Linked DNA regions of Homo sapiens. The protein of the gene in region 2 purifies or fractionates together with the protein of the main gene of each other region. This does not show direct contact. Each region holds a gene or a part of one and is shown on either strand. Other genes may lie near its edges.

Region 1 (7,030 bases), on a different chromosome or scaffold from region 2:
GAGACCAGCCTGGCCAACGTGGTGAAACCCCACTTCTACTAAAACAAAAACAAAAACTAAAACAAAAATTAACCAGGTATGGTGGTGGGTGCCTGTAGTCCCAGCTACTCGGGAGGCTGAGGGAGGAGAACTGCTTGAACCCGGAATATGGAGGTTTCGGTGAGCCGAGATCGCGCCACTGCAGTCCAACCTGGGCCACAGAGCAAGACTCCCTCTCAAAAAAATAAAATAAAATAAAAATACAAAAATTAGCCAGGCGTGATGGTGGGGGCCTGTAGTCCCAGCTACTCAGGAGGCTAAGGCAGGAGAATCGCTTGAACACAGAAGCAGAGGTTGCAGTTAGCCAAGATCATGCCACTGCACTCCAGCCTGGGCAACAGAGTGAGACTCCATCTCAAAAAATAAATAAATAAATAAAATTATTCTTTATAGAGACAGGGTCTTGCTATGTTGCCCAGGCTGGTCTCAAACTCTTGGGCTCTGGTGATCCTCCTACCTCGGCCTCCCAAAGTTCTGGGATTACAGGCATGAGCCATGGTGCCTGGCCTATATTTCACTTACGTGATGACTGTCTCAAATCCCAGTCTCTCCCCAATCCCTGCTGTGTTTTCTCTGTGCTCTGTCACGTGGCATGCGTTTTACCTGAGTTGTTTGGTGCCTGCCTTTCCTCCGCTATGGTAAAGCCCCACATAGCTGGGCTTTTGGTCTGTCCTGGTCATTCTCCCATCCCCAGCTCTTAGAACCCGCCTGGCAGGTGGTAGTGCTCAGTGCTTGCTTGTGGAATGAATGAATGATCCCCCTGGCCACACGGAGCCCATGTTCCTGCATGAGGCTATCCCTGCCCTGAGCCCATCCGCTACCCTGAGCTCCGGCGCTCCCTTTAGGTGGTGCATGGGCCCCTGTTTACCACAGTCCCTTGACTGGTGTCACCTGTTGCTGTTAGGACATATTTTAAGATGCATTATGACAGCATGGATAGGTTGCCTGTTTAATTCCATAAGCTCCAGGTGCGACAGCCTCATGTGCGAAGGGCTTTCCCACCACCTCCTATCCCAAGCTCCCGCCGAGGAGCCCCTTCCCTGGCCGGGCTCGGGCAGCTGTTCCGGAGCCTTGTGGTGGGGCGTGGGGCCCTCATCACTCTCCTCACAAGCGTACTTGTCCCTTCCCCTGCAGAACGTGCGCATCGACCCCAGTAGCCTGTCCTTCAACATGTGGAAGGAGATCCCTATCCCCTTCTATCTCTCCGTCTACTTCTTTGACGTCATGAACCCCAGCGAGATCCTGAAGGGCGAGAAGCCGCAGGTGCGGGAGCGCGGGCCCTACGTGTACAGGTGAGGCTGTGTCCAGGTGAGGGTGGAGGGGCCGGCTGAGGCTGGGCAGGGGAGGGGTCTCAGAGTGGACGGGATGGGGAGGCTGCTGACTGAGCCCCAGAGATTGTTCCGGAAGCAGGCAAGTCATAGTCGGGGTAAGTGCTAGTCCCAGAGAAGTTTTTGTTTTAGGGTTTTTTTTTTTTTTTTTTTTTTTTTTAGAGATGGGATCTTGCTATGTTGCCCAGGCTGGTTTTGAAGTCCTGGGCTCAAGCGATCCTCCGCCTCAGCCTCTCAAAGTGCTGGGATTACAGGTGCGAATCACCAGACGTTGCCTAGAGAGGTTCTTTATGGAGCAGGGAGGGACCAATGGTGTGCGTCTGGGTGGAGGGTGCATGTGTGAGTTACACACATACATACACACACATACACATACACATACACACATACATACATACACACGTACATACACATACACACACACATACATACACACACATGTACCTACACATGCATACACACATACACACACACACACACACACACACACACATGCATGACCAGGAGCAGGGACCGACCCCCCAGACCCTATCTGGGCCAGAGGACCGGGTGGGTCAGCACGGGAAGGGGTCAGCTGTTTGTGGAACATGCTGGCCCAAGGACCACAGAGTTGTGCCTTTGCTTTCTGCTTGTCCTGTACCTGGCTGTGGCCTAGGGGAAGTGACTTCATTCCTCTGAGCCTCAGTTTGCCCGTCTGCAGACTGGAGAGACACAAGAGCCCCTTCATGGGGTCACCGGGACACTCAGGATGCACTCGGAGCTCTGAGACGGCTGGCGGATGTGCCTGTTACAACTCCCTTACCTCCTGGCGTTTTCACAGCACCTCCCCTCCTCCACACCCCCACTTCCCAGTTCACAGACAGGGGAGCTGACTTGCCCCCGGCACACGGTGTTCCAGGGATGGGGCGGGCAGAGGGTGTTCCCGCTGTTGGAGACCCACAGTCTGGTTCTGGGAAAGCCAAGATGAAAACCCAGCAAATGTGCCTGAGGTTTGGGAATGGGAAACATGAATCAGCTGCTGCATTCCGTTCACTCATTCACTCATTCGCTCGTTCATTTAACAAATGTTTACTGAGCACCTGCTAGGTGTTGGCTGCCGTTCTAAGTACAGGGGACCCAGCAGTGGACAGAATGGGCAAAAATGCCAAAGCTCTCTATACTCCTTCATTCTGTGAGCACTGACTGAGCACCTCCTGTGTGCTGGGGGCGCAGGCAGACCAAGGCCCTGCCTCACCAAGCTGATGTTCTGATGGGGAGAGAGTAAAGAAGTGGACAAATAAGGGGAAATCAGGCAGCCATCAGTATTGTGCAGACAAAACAGTGTGAAGCCGGAGTGCAGGAGGGAGGGTGGCCTTGGGGCTCGGTCTGACTGGAGGGTCGGGAGCACATCTGCAAAGGGACACTCACTGGACCCGCATGGTGGGAAGAGGCCCTGGGGAGACAGAGTCCCGGGCAGAGCATGTGCAAAGGTCTGAAGGCTGGGACAGAGGCCTGTGCGGCTGGGGTTACGAGGGAGGGAGACAGTGGAGAGACGAGGCCTGAGCCTTGCTGAGGGCCTCAGAGGTCACGTTAGGAGCCTGATTTTAACCTGCATGCAAAGTGGGGTTGTGGTCCAGAGCATGGCACGATCTGATTTCTACTTTTTTTTTTGAGACGGAGTCTCTCTTTCACCCAGGTTGGAGTGCGGTGGCGCGATCTCGGCTCACTGCAACGTCCGCCCCCCAGGTTCAAGCGATTCTCCTGCCTCAGCCTCCCGAGTAGCTGGGATTACAGGCATCTGCCACCATGCCCAGCTAATTTTTGTATTTTTAGTAGAGACGTGGTTTCGCCATGTTGGGCAGGATGGTCTTGAACTCCTGACATCAGGTGATCTGCCCACCTCAGCCTCCCAAAGTGCTGGGTTTACAGGCATGAGCCACTGCTCCCGACCTGATTTCCACTTTTCAAAGATTCTTCTGGATGGTGGAGAGTGGCTTGGAGAGATGAGAGATCATAAGGACAGCAGCAGCAACAGTCACAGCAGCTGATGTTTACCTCGTGCTTTCTCTGCACCCGGCGGCTGTGTTGATTGCTTTCTGGGTATCTGATTGCTTAATCCCCACAGCTGCCCTGTGAAGTAGGGCTTGTGATTACTTCCTTTTGTAGATGGAGAGACGATGGCCGTGTTGGGTGGGGGAGAGCAGAACGAGGCCGGGTGGGCGGCGACACCATGTCCTGCAGTGGGCAGGCGGCGGGAGGGACAGACTTGGCGAAGGGGCCGAGCTCAGCTTTGGCTGTGGGGCCGGAGGTGTGCACAGACGTCCAGGGCCCCTGGTTCCCAGGCAGGCATTGCAGGCGAGTAGAAGGGAAACGTCCCATGCAGCGGGGCGGGGCGTCTGACCCACTGGCTTCCCCCACAGGGAGTTCAGGCACAAAAGCAACATCACCTTCAACAACAACGACACCGTGTCCTTCCTCGAGTACCGCACCTTCCAGTTCCAGCCCTCCAAGTCCCACGGCTCGGAGAGCGACTACATCGTCATGCCCAACATCCTGGTCTTGGTGAGGCTGCCCTGTGGCCCACGCCGCCTCGCACCCTGACCTCGTCCCCTGTCTCTCCTCCCGCCTGCCCCTTGTGCAGAGAGCAGTCCCTGAGGTGGTCGGAGCGTGGGGACTCACGCCTGGTGGGTGGCTTTCGGCCCTGTGCTGTCTCCACCACCCCCAGTGGGTTCTGAGTTTCCCAGGTGGGTCCACCTGTCTTGGTTTGGAAGTCCTGGCCAAAGTACTTTTTTTTCCCTTTTCAATTTACATTTCTGAGATCTCCAAAAGGGGCTGTCTTGTTGAGGGCTGAGCCACAGGCCCGCCTCTGGGACTGGGGCTGGAGTTCACTTAGCCTGAGTCCAGTGGGGTGCAAGGGGGAGAAGGGGTTCTCGGGAGCACATGTGGCCTTGGCACTGGAGGAGCAGAGGGTGGTTCTGGTGTCCCAGATGCCCCACGTGGCCACTCCAGGGGCCTCCTGCACCCCAGCATTTCCCTTCATGGGCTCTTTGCTGTGAGGCCCAGCTGGGGCCAAGGGAGGATGGGCCAGCCACGTCCAGCCTCTGACACTAGTGTCCCTTCGCCTTGCAGGGTGCGGCGGTGATGATGGAGAATAAGCCCATGACCCTGAAGCTCATCATGACCTTGGCATTCACCACCCTCGGCGAACGTGCCTTCATGAACCGCACTGTGGGTGAGATCATGTGGGGCTACAAGGACCCCCTTGTGAATCTCATCAACAAGTACTTTCCAGGCATGTTCCCCTTCAAGGACAAGTTCGGATTATTTGCTGAGGTACGTGTGGCCTGGTGAGAAGCCAAAGATTCAGGCCTGTGTCCTGTCTTCCCCTCACACAGCCTGGACACTGGTCACCAGCTTGCTTTGTAGCTGGCTGGGGATCTAGTGGCTGTGGGTTGTAAGTGACTGAGAACCTGACTCAAACCGGCTTGAGTGAAATGGGGAATGTTGGGGCTCATAGAACTGAAAATGCTAGGGTTGGATTCAGGTACAGCTTGATCCAGGCTCAAATGATGTGACTGGGCCTTAGCTTAGCAAATTGGAGGCTTTGCTGGAGGAAGGGGGCATGGCTGCTGGGGAGTAATATCACAAGCTGACTCTTAATCTTGACTCTTGGCAACCTGGTAGGGTCACTGACTGGGCTTCGGAGCCAACATCTCGTCCATGGAGGGTCTGACCCTGACCTTGGCTCCCTCACCGCAGGTTTCACTGAGTCCTTGGGACTGCTCCAGCCTCAGCCATCTCTTTGGTCTCTGCTGATCAGGGTAGAGTGCTGGGGGGGATATCGTGGTGCTGCGTGTGATAGATACTCAGTACGTTTTTGTCAAGGGTGACGGGCTCCTGTCGTGTGGGTAAATGAGCAAGTTTGGGCTAAGTGGCATGATGCTGTAAAGGCATCTTGTAAATCCTGAAGTGCTTTGCAAATGAAAGTTATTACAAAGTCCCTAGTTTAGTATAATCTACGTTTGACTGCATATAATGAAAACCTCACAAGAAAAGTCTAGCGGTAGGCTGTTCAGTGTTGGTGTGGTGGCTTCATGGTCTTAAGTGATCTGGAAGCCTTCTACTACTGTGCTCTGCCATCCTTGGCATGTGGTTTTCATCCTCAAGATAACCTCATTGTCCAAGTTGGCTGCTAGAGTGTCAGCAATCACATCACATTCCAGGCAGCACAGCAAGAAGGAAAAAATGGTGGGGCTTTGGGGAGCAGATGGAGGAACTGGGGGTAAAACAGCGTGTTCCAGTTTCCTCCCTCTTAGGGAGGAAGAAAACCAATGTCCACTTCCTTTCTATTGGCCAGAACTGAGTCACATGGCCACACCTAGCTCCAGGGGAAGCTGGAAAGGTAGCCTTTTAGCTGGGTGTGCTGATGCTCTGAGTATGGTTTGGGTTTTGTATGAAAGAGTAAGGAGAGATTGGGCTTTGGGTAGTAACTGGCAGTTTCTGATGCTCTCCGTCCATTATAATGATCATTTAAGTATCCTATTGGGTGAGCATTTATTAATAATAACAATAATAATGAAAATAAAGACTATCATTTTGAGCTCTTACTGTGTCCGGTGCACTGTACCTGGCCGTTTTTGCACATGAGTCCCTTTAATGCTCCCCTTTGTAGTGGCTCTGGTTATTCTTGGCTCCACATGGGCACGTGACAGACACACCCGGGATGCTGGGCTGGGGCCTTGTGCTGGGTCCTGCTCTGGAGGTCTGTGATGGGTGCAGTCACTCAGCCGGGCAACCTTGGAGCTCCTCAGTGTGCTCCACCCTGCAAAGCACTTCTAGATATTTCCTTCAGTCACTCATACCACTTTGTGCTTTGCATGTCTTTGGGATTAGAAACCAGCTTCTGGGAAATGCTCTCGGAGCACCAAAGCCTGGGCCCCACTATCAAGAACCTCGATGGGTTAGGACAGGCCAGGTTTTGCTGCTGTGACAAGCAGCCCCGGAATCTCCATGGCTTAGAACAACCAAGACTTATTCCTTTGCTTGCACTCCACGTCCAGTGTGGGTGACTGGGGCACCCGCGCTTGTGGTGGTCACTTGGGGATCCAGGCTGAGGGAGGCTCTGTCTTGACACATACCTCCTTGGCTGCTATAGCAGCGGCAGAGAGCCCGGTGAAAGGCGTGTGCACAGTCCTTAAAGCATCCCCCCAAGTGACATGCCACTTCTCCTTTTTCATTGCTCAGGGAGCTGACCTGGCCATGCTTTATTTTATGCTGGAGTAGGGTGTGGTGGGGGTGATCTGCCATTTACCTGGGAGGAAAGCCAGACTCTCCTGGAGTTAGGAAGGGAGGGTGGAACACTGCAGCCACAGAACCCGGGACCATTCCTCCTAGAAAGCTCCCAAGCCTCCTCTCGGTCCCCAGACACTGGGCATTTGGCAGTGAACCAGATGCTGGGGGCCCTGTCCTTCTGGTGGAGGGGGAGGAGGGCTCAGCCCAGAATGTTCAGACCAGGCCGGCTCAATGGCAGGCCTAAGCCTTACGATGCTGTTCCCTGCTGTGTCTGTAGCTCAACAACTCCGACTCTGGGCTCTTCACGGTGTTCACGGGGGTCCAGAACATCAGCAGGATCCACCTCGTGGACAAGTGGAACGGGCTGAGCAAGGTGAGGGGCGAGAGGCGAG
Region 2 (7,083 bases):
GTTTTCTATTGCCATGGTTTTCATTCGCGAACGCAGGATGGGAAATCTGTAAGGAATCCAGGATGATTTCTGCAAATATTTCCTTCTGGGATGCTTGCATTCAGGCCCCATTAGTAACAGAATGCTGGTTACTCTAGAGTTGATTATCAGCCACAGCAAAAGTCCACTCCCCTATGGAAACCACCCTCGATTCAAGGCCCGAGACTGCAGGATCATAACAAGACCAGTGGAGATGTGCAGGGCAAGTGATTTATTAAAGCAACGTGTTGAAACCTTTACAATTTTTAGTGAAGATCAGGGTGTCGTTGAAAGACTTTGGAAACCAGGTTGAGCATTTTTACATGTCACACACCACATTTTTTCACTATTTCCACCTGAAATCAAAAAAAAGAAAGAAAGAAAGAAAGGTGAGGTCAGTCATGCTGCTGCTGGTGATGATAGGCTAACATCAAAGAGGCCAATGGGATTTTGCCCCAATGGCAATTGGAAAGGCAGAGGCAAGAATTCAGTTTGGGAAACTGAGGCCTAGACCTGGTGGCCTTACAACACCCATTCTGGTGAGAAAGCAGCCTTTCCCCACCAGACCAATAGACCTGGGAAGACCCAGGAGTTAGGCCCAGGGTTTTCATGGAGGAGGAGGGGAGGGGTTGACAGTGCAGCAAGAGGTTGTTGTCTGGGCTGTCCCAGGTCTGTGGAGTCTCCTGATCCCTGTAATGGGGGACCCAGGGCTCTGAAGCCAGGCAGGGCAGGGAGGGCTTCTGGGAAACACACCTTCCAGGAGACTCCAGTCTTCCCATGGGAGAATTCTGCCTAACGGCCAGGGGTCTTATCAGCCCTGACCCTGCAGCTTCTATGGGTATTTGCAGCCAAACCTCAGGACAACAATCCAGAGGCAGCCAGGCTGAGAGGGCCCTGGAATCTCTGATTTCTTGAGAAAGACATAGTGAGAACATCCCACTTGTGTGGCGTTGCAGTAGGTAGAGCAGCGAAAAAGTCTTGGCCCACTGGCTGTGGTCAGGAGAGTGTCATGGATGAGGAGTGGATAGTGGGCCCTGAGGAGCTGCAAGGGGCTCCTGGCTCTGCAGAAGCTGCACAGGAGCCCAGTTCACCAGCACCCTGTCTGTGGGAGGCCCAGCTCTAGGTCCCCTCAAGCCTCCTCTCCCTGTTCAAATCTCCCACACTCCCTGGGACATCCCATAGTGACCGTGTCCACTGCGTGAGGGTAGGTTGACCTCAGGAAAGATCCCAGCAGGGAGGCGGCCGTGCTTGGCCCTTCACCATCCCTGCCTTGGCCCTAGCTCACTCCCCATGTCCTCAGCACACTCTGGGGACACAGCATCCAGGCAGGTGACCTGACAAGAAACATGCAGGAGGCTGTGTGCAGCTGAGTTGAATTCTGCCTCTGCATAAAGGAGAAAGAAATTACCAGGACTTTTTCAATGAGAGTCGTTTCTTAAAAGATATCTGATCGGTGCAGTGCTTCACTTCCAACTTGGCTGCAAGAGCTTCTGGAGGTGGATTAAGTTTGGCAACTTGGAGGTTTACCGCAGCGTCACTTAAGAATAAGAAGACTGTGATCTCAGAAGCAACAGCTGGGCAGACAAGAGCATGGGCTGCAGCACAAAAATAAAAATATTGTTGATGTTAGGAAAGTCGATTTTTCTCTCATGGCTCCCTGAGGTTACACCAGACAGGATCCCCTGGGTTCTATGTTTCTATACCATTATTGTGCTGATGACAATACCAGAAACTCCAGGTGTGACTTTCTCCGGGTCACACAACAAAGGGAAGAGCTTCATATCCTCAGCTAGACTTCTTTTTCTTTTTTTTGAGATAGGTTCACCCAGACTGGAATGCAGTGGCACAATCTCGGCTCACTGCAGCCTGAATGTCTTGGGCTCAAGCGATCCTCCCTCAGCCCCCAAAGTAGCTGAGACTACCAGTGCCTGCCACCATGCCCGCTTTTGTGTGTGTGTGTGTGTGTGTGTGTGTGTGTGTGTGTTTTGTTTTGTTTTTTTTTTTTGTAGAGATGGGGTTTCGCCATGTTGCCCAGGCTGGTGCTGAACTCCTGAGCTCAAGTGATCTGCCCACTGTGGCCTCCCAAAGTGCTAAGATTACAGGAATGAGACACCATGCCTGGCCCACAGCTTGACTCTTGACAACCATAACCTTACTTCATTCTCATAGCCACTCCTGGCAGAAGCTTTAACCACCAGTGATAAGAGGAGGCTCAAGGAGGGTGAGCATTGTGCCCAAGATCAAGGGGTGGGAAGTGTCGAAGCCCAGGTTCACCCCAGACCTCACATTACATCATCTGACACAGATCCCATTCAGAAGTGAAGCTCAGGCAGAAGAATTCCTAACATTTGCCTGAACTGATTTTTCTATAAAACTTCTTAGATACTGGGGATTAGAAGAAATAGCTCTAAGCAGCCAGGCGCAGTAGCTCATGCCTGTTATCCCAGCACTTTAGGAGGCCGAGGCGGGCAGATCATCTGAGGTCGGGAGTTCGAGACCAGCCTGACCAACATGGAGAAACCCCATCTCTACTAAAAATACAAAATTAGCCAGCTGTGGTGGCCCATGCCTGTAATCCCAGCTGCTCAGGAAGGCTGAGGCAGGAGAATCACTTGAACCCCGGAGGCAGAGGTTGCAGTGAGCCAAGATCATGCCACTGCACTCCAGCCTGGGCAACAAGAGCAAAACTTCTCAAAAAAAAAAAAAAAAAAAGGAAGAAGAAAGAAGAAATAGCTCTAACCTTTATGAATCTTATTCAACAAGCACAGAAAAGGGTTTGGAATTTTGTTTGGTTTTGTGCAGACCCCAACCCAAAGCACAAATAGGTGATCTTGTGCTCAGAAGAGGGTGCATCCCAGGGGCTGGTGCTGGACTCATGACTGATGTACTCACCCTGGTAGCAGCAAAGGGCCAGCGAGACCATCAGGAGACACACTGACAGCCTCATGGTGGCTTATTCGGCTGTGAGCTCAGCTTTCACAATGAGTGATTTGGATTCGACTCCAGGAGCCTGTGTAGTCATGGAGGCCAGGGCTATTTGTACCTAGGGAGCCTGGCTGGTCCTACCTACCGGGGCACCTGGTAGGTCATGAGGCCTGGCTCCCAGCCCGCCCTTCCAAGCCAGGGCTGCTGCCGTCCATCAATGTCACCTCCTTAGGAATCTCTGCATCTGAGTGGGGCGGAGCACAAGACAGCAGCCTTGTGAGAACTCTGCTCTGTGCTCCAGGTGAGTGTTCAGGTACATCTGGAAATGTTCCTGGGATCCTCAATTTCCTTATGAGCTTTTGCTGATTAGTTCTTTTTATCTTTGTAGCAGTGCAGGGGCACAGGTGAATTATGGCTTCACAAGGCACAGGAAGCTGGAAGGCTGTGTTCTCTTTATGGGAGAGCAGGGACATAAGGAGACCCTGCTTTGATCCCCCTGCATGTCTGACAACAAGCAGGCTTGTTTCAGTTGCACATTGGGAAAGTCTAATCCTTCCCCTCAGCCCCTTCCATCACCACCATGTTCACTGCATAGGTACTGAAAACATAGTTGAATACATCCCACCTGTAGAAGATATGCTGAGGAAAAACATCTGCTGCACCTGTTCTCTAGCCTGCCTCACTCCCAAACCTGAATCTTGTTTATACGTGCAGTTATATATATGGCCAAGATTCACATTTTCTATCTATAAAAAGCAAGCTTTCTGTGATGTGTAGCCACCCACGTCTTATCTTAGGGCTGATCTGAAGATTAAATAACCTAACTCTTTTTCTCAAGAGCTTTTGGAGTGTTCAGAGCCAATCATACATCAGTGGGGCTCTAGGCTGGGAAGATAATAGAAGGGAAGAGACAGAGGAACAGGGTGGGTGGTCACTTCCCCCTAACCCCTAGGCTCAAGTTTTCCACTTCAAACCTATCTGTGCTGCCTGGGCCAATCCCATTTTTAAGGGAAAGTGAAGGAAGCCCCCAGACAAAGCAATACACACCCGCCTTCCCTCCCATTGCCGTGCCTTCATGTGGTGTGAGTTTAATCACCAGAAATTTTTCTCTTAAATAAACTTACATTTGAGAGGAGTCACAGCCCAGGCCATAGCTTTCCATTCTCAGCTATGTAGTCAAATCACTTGGAGCTTTTAAAACATACTGACCCCACAGGCTTCTCTCTCTGGCGATTTTGATTCAGTAGCATTGGGGTGAATCCCTCCTTTCTGTACTGTTTAAACTGCTCTGGTGTTTCTCACAGACAGCAGGGCTGAGATCCAGCCAGGAAAACCTTTAAGAAGGAAGGGGACCTTACGGGTTTTGTCATCAAAGACACATTGACAGATTTAGTTGAGTCCAAGCTGAGGGCAACAGTGGATCTCACTTTCATCACACAGGATGACGACGGAGTCCCTGAATCAGCCCTGCTGCCACCAAGGAGGGGGAGGGTTGGTGGTGAGGTTTACAGCTATGAGGGTTCAGATCCTCATTTATGGGCTCCTGGACCTTAGGAAAATTATTCAGTTTATGTAACCCCAGTTTTCTCATTTGTCAAAGTAGGCTACTAATGGTGCCTACATCATTGGGTTGATAGATGATCAAATGAGTGTGTTCATGGGTGTGTGTGTGTTTAAAATATACCAAGTTCTGGTACATAGTAGTTCTCAATGTAAACTGCCATTATCTTGTCCCATTTGTCATATATGTCATGGTTTGCCAGTAGTTCCTAGTTTAGAGCACAGCCAAAATCCACTAAATCACCTACTTGCAGAACTACACGGACACCTAGATACACCATTTCTCTTTGACATAAATGGAAAAGGAAACCCAGCTCATGGTCTTGGAGGCTGCAAACCCATGAATATGGGCTTCAGGACTGAGGCCTCTTTTGCAGTAGACAGGTCTGTGAAGCATCCACCCTTTTTGTGGATGAGAGTTTATCCTCACTCAGGCTTGACATTCACCTTGTCATCTGTACAGTCCATTGGGGAGCATGTGTATCTCTGACAGAGGATTGTTTGCGTATACTTTTATTAGTCCTACCACGATTAACACCTATGCAGGGTTTTTTTGTTTTCATCATTGATGCTTTTTATGGCTCCCTCCTTTTTACACAATTGACTCAAGATTTTAGTTTATTCTTTCCATCCATGGACATCGTTGCCTGACCCCGATGACTTGTTCAATACTCCCCTTCATAGACTCTGCTGGAACCATGCACCTCTCATTTGCAGCAATCTCAAGTAACAAGGAATTTAAAAGGATTTTCTTTAAAAGTGCTCAGCTTAATTAAAAGTGGATATGTTCAAGTTATAGGTATATTGAAAAGGTCTTTATGCTTTTCTCTTGTTGAATCTTGTTTTTTGGGAAAAAGGCTCTTTTCTTTTCAATCAACTGAATTATTTTTCTCCATTTTTCATCTTACCATTCTTAATGCAAGCATGAGAAGCCCTAAGATAACTTCTGGTAGCATGGGACTCCTTGGGAAAAACAGAGGAGGCACCACAGACCCCATTTTGGGGAAAAAAAAAAAACTGTTTTCCTCATGAAACCCCCAAAATTAAAAGCAGTTACTTCTCAAAATCAAAGGCTCTGTTCTGTTATGTATTGTGTAATCTACCATTTTGAGTTTTGGGGGTGTCAAATTACTTCACACTATGAGAGAGCTTCGGTGTGTAATAACTAGATAGAAAATTCAATGTTAGGGATGGCTAATAGTAGTTATAATCAAAGAAGCGTGCTCTTGGCCACCTGAAAGATATGGCAACATCCTCACCCCCAACTAAGAGACGAGACTCCCATGGGGAATGGGCTCATTACAGAATAAGCCAATTGGCTTTGGGTTCCCTTGCAGTGAAATACGTGATAGAACCACTACACTGTCTTCTCCCATAGTATCTCCCTCCTTTTAGGGACCCAAGATCAGGTATAAAATGGCACCCTTAATTTTAGGGATCTGCCTTTGCCTTCAGCTGCGTCTGTTTATTAGGTATGCTACATAGCCCTGTTCCTTCAAGGGCTCCACCCTAAAGCCAGTAATCCAATTAAGAGACTACCAAGTGAAAAATCTTACAAGTGCTGAATCTTCTGTTTCTTAGTGTTGCTATATATGTGCTGTGTGTGATGTCTATAAAAAGAGCTCTGATTGATTGGCTTAAAGAAAAATAAGTGCTTCAATCAAATGTTTTAGTTCACATGACTTGAAGAAATAAAAATAGTCTGAAGGATTATTAGTAAAAGGCAAGTGTCATCAAAATGCAAATAGGTTGTCTAAATCATATAATTTAGATACCAGGTTTGCTAAATGTTGCAAGGTCATATACTGCCTGCTTTACACATAGGTAAGGCCTGGGACTCATGGAGCTAGAAGCTGAAAAGTCAGACTTTATCTGCACTTCTGTCTGGGTCCTAGGATCCACAGCTGGAACATAATTAAAATTGCTTACTAACCAGGTTTTTCACCAAAAATAAAAGGTGAAGGGTAAAGTTATTGTAAACCACAGAGATAAATACACTTCTTTGTCAGTTGATGGTGTTTTCTAAATATACAATCATGTCATCTGCAAACAGAGACAATTGGATTTCCTCTTTTCCTATTTGAATACCCTTTATTTCTTTCTCTTGCCTGATTGCCCTGGCCAGAACTTCCAATACTGTGTTGAATAGGAGTGGTGAGAGAGGGCATCCTTGTCTTGTGCCAGTTTTCAAAGGGAATGCTTCCAGCTTTTGCCCATTCATATGATATTGGCTGTGGGCTTGTCATAAATAGCTCTTATTATTTTGAGATATGTTCCATCAATACCTAGTTTATTGAGAGTTTTTAGCATGAAGGGCTGTTGAATTTTATCAAAGGCCTTTTCTGCATCTATTGAGATTATCATGTGGTTTTTGTCATTGGTTCTGTTTATGTGATGGATTATATTTATTGATTTGCATATGTTCAACCCGCCTTTCATCCCAGGGATGAAGCTGACTTGATCGTGGTGGATAGCTTTTTTTATGTGCTGCTGGATTCAATTTGCCAGTATTTTATTGAGGATTTTCTCATCGATGTTCATCCGGGAGATTAGCCTGAAATTTTCTTTTTTTGTTGTGTC
Region 3 (7,030 bases), on a different chromosome or scaffold from region 2:
AGCAGACAAACAGAGAGCCAAATCATGAGTGAACTCCCATTCACAATTGCTTCAAAGAGGATAAAATACCTAGGAATCCAACTTACAAGGGATGTGAAGGACCTCTTCAAGGAGAACTACAAACCACTGCTCAAGGAAATAAAAGAGGATACAAACAAACGAAAGAACATTCCATGCTCATGGGTAGGAAGAATCAGTATCATGAAAATGGCCATACTGCCCAAGGTAATTTATAGATTCAATGCCATCCCCATCAAGCTACCAATGACTTTATTCACAGAATTGGAAAAAACTACTTTAAAGTTCATTTGGAACCAAAAAAGAGCCCGCATTGCCAAGTCAATCCTAAGCCAAAAGAACAAACCTGGAGGCATCACACTACCTGACTTCAAACTATACTACAAGGCTACAGTAACCAAAACAGCATGGTACTGGTACCAAAACAGAGATATAGAACAGAACAGAACAGAGCCCTCAGAAATAATGCCGCATATCTACAACTATCTGATCTTTGAGAAACCTGACAAAAATAAGCATTGGGGAAAGGATTCCCTATTTAATAAACGGTGCTGGGAAAACTGGCTAGCCATAAGTAGAAAGCTGAAACTGGATCCCTTCCTTACACCTTATACAAAAATTAATTCAAGATGGATTAAAGACTTAAATGTTAGACCTAAAACCATAAAAACCCTAGAAGAAAACCTAGGCAATACCATTCAGGACACAGTCATGGGCAAGGACTTCATGTCTAAAACACCAAAAGCAATGGCAACTAAAGCCAAAATTGACAAATGGGATCTAATTAAACTAAAGAGCTTCTACAGAGCAAAAGAAACTACAATCAGAGTGAACAGGCAACCTACAGAATGGGAGGAAATTTTTGCAACCTACTCATCTGACAAAGGGCTAATATCCAGAATCTACAATGAACTCAAACAAATTTACAAGAAAAAAACCAACAATCCCATCAAAAAGTGGGCAAAGGATATGAACAGACACTTCTCAAAAGAAGACATCCATGCAGCCAAAAAACACATGAAAAAATGCTCATCACCACTGGCAATCAAATGCAAATCAAAAACCACAATGAGATACCATCTCACACCAGTTAGAATGACAATCATTAAAAAGTCAGGAAACAACAGGTGCTGGAGAGGATGTGGAGAAATAGGAACACTTTTACACTGTTGGTGGGACTGTAAACTAGTACAACCATTGTGGAAGTCGGTGTGGCAATTCCTCAGGGATCTAGAACTAGAAATACCATTTGACCCAGCCATCCCATTACTGGGTATATACCCAAAGGATTATAAATCATGCTGCTATAAAGACACATGCACACGTATGTTTATTGCAGCACTATTCACAATAACAAGACTTGGAACCAACCCAAATGTCAATCAATGATAGACTGGATTAAGAAAATGTGGCACATATACACCATGGAATACTATGCAGCCATAAAAAATGATGAGTTCATGTCCTTTGTAGGGACATGGATGAAGCTGGAAACCATCATTCTCAGCAAACTATCGCAAGGACAAAAAACCAAACACCACATGTTCTCACTCATAGGTGGGAACTGAACAATGAGAACACATGGACACAGGAAGGGGAACATTACACAACGGGGACTGTCGTGGGGTGGGGGTACGGGGGAGGGATAGCATTAGGAGATATACCTAATGCTAAATGACTAGTTAATGGGTGCAGCACACCAACATGGCACATGTATACATATGTAACAAACCTGCACGTTGTGCACATGTACCCTATAACTTAAAGTATAATAATAATAAAATAATAAAAAATTAAAAAGTTCAGTGTTCGAGTTCTCTGTCTCTTGGCCTCTGTGATGCCTGCAGAAACCCAGTCGCAACCCATTCATTCATATTCCTCTCCTTAGAGCCAGGAGTTAGCGCCCCAAGGGCAGTGCTGAATCCCTGGACAGGACTTGGGATAAATGCATTCCCCCTGCTGTCTCTCAGAGGCACAGCTGTGAAACACATTCTACCGGCTTCCTGAGAGCTTCCCAGGGAGTTCATGCCCCAGTTGCTCACAGAAGTGACCAGCTCAATGACACCCCCTTTTGGTGGATTTTTCTTCTCTATTCCATTCTTCCCTCTTTTATGAGCTCACTTTCTAAAAGAGGCTACCTGCACAAACGCCCATCACAGGCTCAGCTGTCTAAGAAAACTCTGGCTGGGAGAGTGGACTTTCCAGAATGGAATGTGGGCAGTATTCTAAAATACTAAATAAAATGCAACAGGAAAATCAAAGGGATGAACGTCACATGGCATAAAGAAGGAGGTAGAGGACATCTGCCTAGCCTTCCAAGAACAAAACAAATTGACAATCAACCCTGGCCACCCAGGAGATGAGCTTTGTCACAGCAATTCTTCCTCATATCCCAGAAAAGAGAAGAAGAAATGAGGACAGTAGAATCAACTGTGACATCCAAAAAAGGCTGCCCAATCTCTTCTCTAGAATGTGTCAACTGTGATTTATGAAATAACATATGCTATTTTTATATTGCAATGTTTGCTTATCTATAGGTAAGAGCTCACTATTTCTTATATCATGTTATAATTATATTCATGAAGAAGATGACCATTGCACAGACAAGTACACTGTGAAGAACCGTGAGGAGAGATTTTACCCTACTTGCAAGCTAACAAATGAGTCTGCCAGTTTGTTTCATCGTTGCGGCAGAAGACTCCTGGGTCAAAGCAAAGGACTGTATTACTTACAGCATAGCAAACAATATGAGCATCAGCATATTTGCATCAATTTCCTTGCCTCCAAGTCCTCTGGGGGAATATGGATGGGCACAGATGGATGTGTGCACACGCAGTGGGTTACATGACAAGTGAGGAGCCCTGAGCTTAGGGAATTCAAAGTTTTCTACGGGCAGCAGGCATTGCTTGCCCTTTGGCAACACTGCTGAAATAAATCTCTTATGGTTCAAGATGTATTGATAAGCATGTTAAGCTTATTTTTATACATGAAGAACAACAAATTGTTATTTTCTATGGTTATTCACAGTATCTCAAAATCTATGTGATATTTTACTAGCTTAGTTTTATTATAATTTTAAAAGACCATTTGGGTTCCTTTGTTAGTGGACAAGAATAAAAAGAGATAAATTAGTTACTTTCTTAAAGCTAAGCAACATCATTTTCTATTGAGGAACCCAAAACTTTCCTAACTTTTACAAATGTTTGTAAATTGTAGGTTCTGTGACAGCCTGTGCTATAAAATTTCATAAGCTTATAAGAGCTTTCTTAACACAGCTGTGGACTTTTCTCCTGGTGTTGTACAGCAGTTCAAATTAGCTCAAGAATCATAAACCCTATATTTGAACAGCTATATAATATTATATATTTATTTTCCCATTTGATGTTGCATTACTTTTTCTACCAATCTTCTTACAATAAATTCATAAATATCTTAATTATAGCAAATGTGAAGTTCTTAAAGATGAGAATCATCAAACATATTTCTATTACAGAGATATATTCTTCAAAAAGTCATCTAAAATAGAAACCCAACTGGGAGACACCTTAAAAGGTTATCTGCCACAACAGAAGCTTTGCTTAAAATACTGTTCTCTTTGTATTTGTGTTAATAATTGATTTGTCTTTGAAATTAAATTAGGAATCTACTATATCTAGTGGTCTTGAAATCAAAGCCCCCTCCCCATTCCTTATCTTCACTGCTGTGTTCAAAAAGACTAGACTCCAGGGACGTGTCCAAAGCTGGGTTAAATATAGGATGCCTGAGAGACACCCTTCTTTCATAGTTCGAGGGTAAGCATGTAGCTGTATGTGTGTGGAGGGGCGGGTGGAGGAGGTTAGCTGTATCAGGGTAGGCATAATACTATATTTTAAATCCCTCCTTCTGTTATAAATGTAAGCTGAAAATAGTCTCTGCTCCCAGCGGCAGCAATCGTAAACTCGCTTAGTTCTGCCTGTAATTTAATTTAATTTAACATGTGACATTGAGACAATGTTTCTTTTAATTCACATATAACTTCTTCCTCACCCACATTCCAGCCAAATAAACACATACTTATAGAAAAATGTGACTGTTTTCCTGGGCATCCCAACAATTCAACTGTCCCTAAAACACCAGGTTCAATTTAAACTCTATTAGCTTGTCTGAGGGCTAAGATATCTAAAAATCCAAGACAAATTATCATTTGCGTATATGGAGGCAGCTCTGATTGAACAGATATCTAAAACGGTTAGGTAATATTTTAGATCAAATCACTCCATCAAGTCAAAGACTAATTCAACTGTTTGTTCAGTTTCCAAAGGAATCCTTCCATTTTGGTCTAGTGTTCCATAAACATTGACTTTACATGAAAAGGACAGTGAAGAGATCTCTTGAACCGGCCAGAAAGTTGAAGCTCAAGGTTGTAGAAGATTTGAGCTACCAAGTCCAAGCCTTCTAAAAGATTCCCAATATGTATATATATCATTTTCCTAACTCTACATTTGCCTGAGAAACAATGACATTCAATAAACTTTTTTCCATGGGATTTAGTTACAAAATAAGTCAAGGAACTACAAGTTATATATTTCCTGGAAAAATATACTATTATATATATATATTATATATTCAAAACTCCGTAAAGCATATAAAGTATAAGCATATACTGAGTTATAAGGCATAACTCAACATGTTATTTTAACCTAAAATTTTCTTAGGGCCTCAATTGCAAATGCTTTAATTGCCAATGGTTCATAAACACATCTGTGAATTAGAAGCAAGTAATATCCTCTGTTTTTATACTCTCAAAAAATGTGATTATACTTAATCAAAAGTAATTCAAACCACAGCCCAGGCAATACATACTAGACCATGTCTTCTTGGTAATTTAATTCTTAGCAATAATTTTAATTGCTGCCTTATTAAGTAGGTATGCTACTTAAATTACAATCCTGTAGTTATAAGGTTAAAACTATTTTAAAATCTCAAATGTTTTTAGATTTCAATCACTCTTCGTATTATTACAACAAAAATGTTCATTAACTGGAACACATGCAGTATCATTTTTTAGCCCCCACTTTATGATATTTTTTAATTTTTATTACCAGAGTAGTCATTTCATTATAAAATTTTAACCAAGCTAAGCATATACTCCATTTTTTAGAAAACTAGATTTACTGTAGTCCTGTTAAGGCTATCATAGTAAGCAATGAATTTCACACTTGTCTTTTATACAGTACAACACATCAAGCAGATATATGAAATCCTTGACAAAAGACATTTAAAACAAACAATTCCATGCTTTATATGTCAAGTGAAAAGGAATATTTTTTCTACAGTGACAGAGCAGACTTGACATGTGCACAATCATGTACAACCAAGCGTTTGCAAATGCTCTTACAACGTGGAGCAACCGGGCCTAGGGACAAGCAACCTTTCAGCTAAGAGTCTCGTCAAAGGTGCGGAAGCCCATTACAGAAGACCAGATAACAGTCAGTCTGACGGGTTCATTCAGATATTCAAGCTTTAAAAAGTACTTTGAAGACTGATACAGATGTCCTAGGCAATAAACTTCCCGAAAAGAATGGGGAACAATCCCAGTGCCAATCACATCTTTGTCATTCAGAAATCCAGGCTAATTTGATTTAGAGACATACATAAATGAACTGTTATTTCTCATAACTGTTTTTTTTTCAGCCTCTTTATTTTTAATCTACATCTCTTAGGTAAAATGCATCAATTTAACTACATTTACTTATTCTGAGTTTTTCTATTGGTCCATGTTTCCTTTAAACACAATTTTGAATGGTTTTTTAAAGTAACCATTTGATTTTGAAACCAATTTACAGAAAACATGGAAGAACTACGCTAATATGCTGTATCACCCCTGAATACTTCAATGTACATTTCCTACAACAAAGATGTTCTCCTATATAACCATAATATGATCATCCCAGTCATCATGGATAAAGTTCCAATATTTAATCCCCAATCTTGTTCAAGTTGCACCAATTCCCAATCATGTCCTTTATAACATAAGCATTTAATGCAGAGTAGTATTTAGTTGCCTTGTTTTCTTAGCCTCCGTCAATCTGGAATGCCTCCTTCCTCACTCCACTCAACCTCTGACAACTTGCTATAGGTCACCACCAGTGCTGTCTCCTGTCTCTCCAGGTCCCCACCCTTGCTACACTGTGGATGCTTTCCTTACCCTGCTGGTTTCTGAATGCTCTGCCACGGTCCTGGGCCTCCCCACTACCCAGCATGGATGCCTAAGCTGAACTGAATGACCTTGGACTGAATTGTTCAAAAAGAGAAGGGGAGAGGAAGAGGAAGAAGAACGCCAAGTAATTTGATTTTTCTTTTTTCATGATCAAACCAATGTCTTGGAATTGATTATCACTTCCATGGGCTACTTATGCTCCGTACTGTTTGTATAGAGTTTGGTGAAAATGAATAAAGGCAACTGAACTACATTTTTTGGTTTTTTTTTTGAGACAGAGTCTCACTCTGTCACCCAGGCTGGAGTGCAGTGGCACGATCTCAGCTCACTGCCTCCTCACAGGCACCTGCCACCATGCCCTGAAATTTTTTCATATTTTTAGTAGAGACGGGGTTTCACCGTGTTGTCCAGCCTGGTTTCGAACTCCCGACCTCAACTGATCCACCCACCTCAGCCTCCCAAAGTGCTGGGATTACAGGTGTGAGCCACCGCGCCTGGCCTGAACTCCATTTTTTATAGAGTACCATTTGACACTAAAATTAAGAGTCTGTTACTCATCTGCAGAATCTCTCTTTAAATGGTATTACTAAAAGGTCCAAAATGAAACATCTGTAAAAATAATTATTCCTACACTCTGTGAGATCTCTTTCCTGACACATTTCACATCTAAGTGAGTTTCCTAACTAACCCACACACACTCTATAGTAGGCTTACCCTTCTTTCCCCAGGCTGGCTGGCGAACTTGCAAAACATAACCATTTAGGGGAAAAAATTGAGGCAATTAAAATTAAAAGTGTTTTAGGCTAAGTAATG

Evidence for each region. The genes of interacting proteins can lie anywhere in the genome.
Region 1: the proteins of SCGB1D4 (region 2) and SCARB1 purify together in Homo sapiens (affinity purification with mass spectrometry; 2 studies listed by BioGRID and IntAct, with this or other methods). This does not show direct contact.
Region 3: the proteins of SCGB1D4 (region 2) and CNTNAP3 purify together in Homo sapiens (affinity purification with mass spectrometry; 2 studies listed by BioGRID and IntAct, with this or other methods). This does not show direct contact.

The regions. Positions count from the first base shown.
Region 1 is NC_000012.12:124,811,851-124,818,880, reverse strand, and holds part of SCARB1 (scavenger receptor class B member 1), read left to right. Parts: intron 1-1,173; coding exon 1,174-1,331; intron 1,332-3,766; coding exon 3,767-3,908; intron 3,909-4,475; coding exon 4,476-4,679; intron 4,680-6,915; coding exon 6,916-7,011; intron 7,012-7,030. UniProt on the Homo sapiens protein: Receptor for different ligands such as phospholipids, cholesterol ester, lipoproteins, phosphatidylserine and apoptotic cells. Receptor for HDL, mediating selective uptake of cholesteryl ether and HDL-dependent cholesterol efflux.
Region 2 is NC_000011.10:62,296,046-62,303,128, forward strand, and holds SCGB1D4 (secretoglobin family 1D member 4 precursor), read right to left. Parts: upstream 3,031-7,083; 5' UTR 2,966-3,030; coding exon 2,911-2,965; intron 1,614-2,910; coding exon 1,427-1,613; intron 375-1,426; coding exon 365-374; 3' UTR 236-364; downstream 1-235.
Region 3 is NC_000009.12:39,278,154-39,285,183, forward strand, and holds part of CNTNAP3 (contactin-associated protein-like 3 isoform 1 precursor), read right to left. Parts: intron 1-7,030.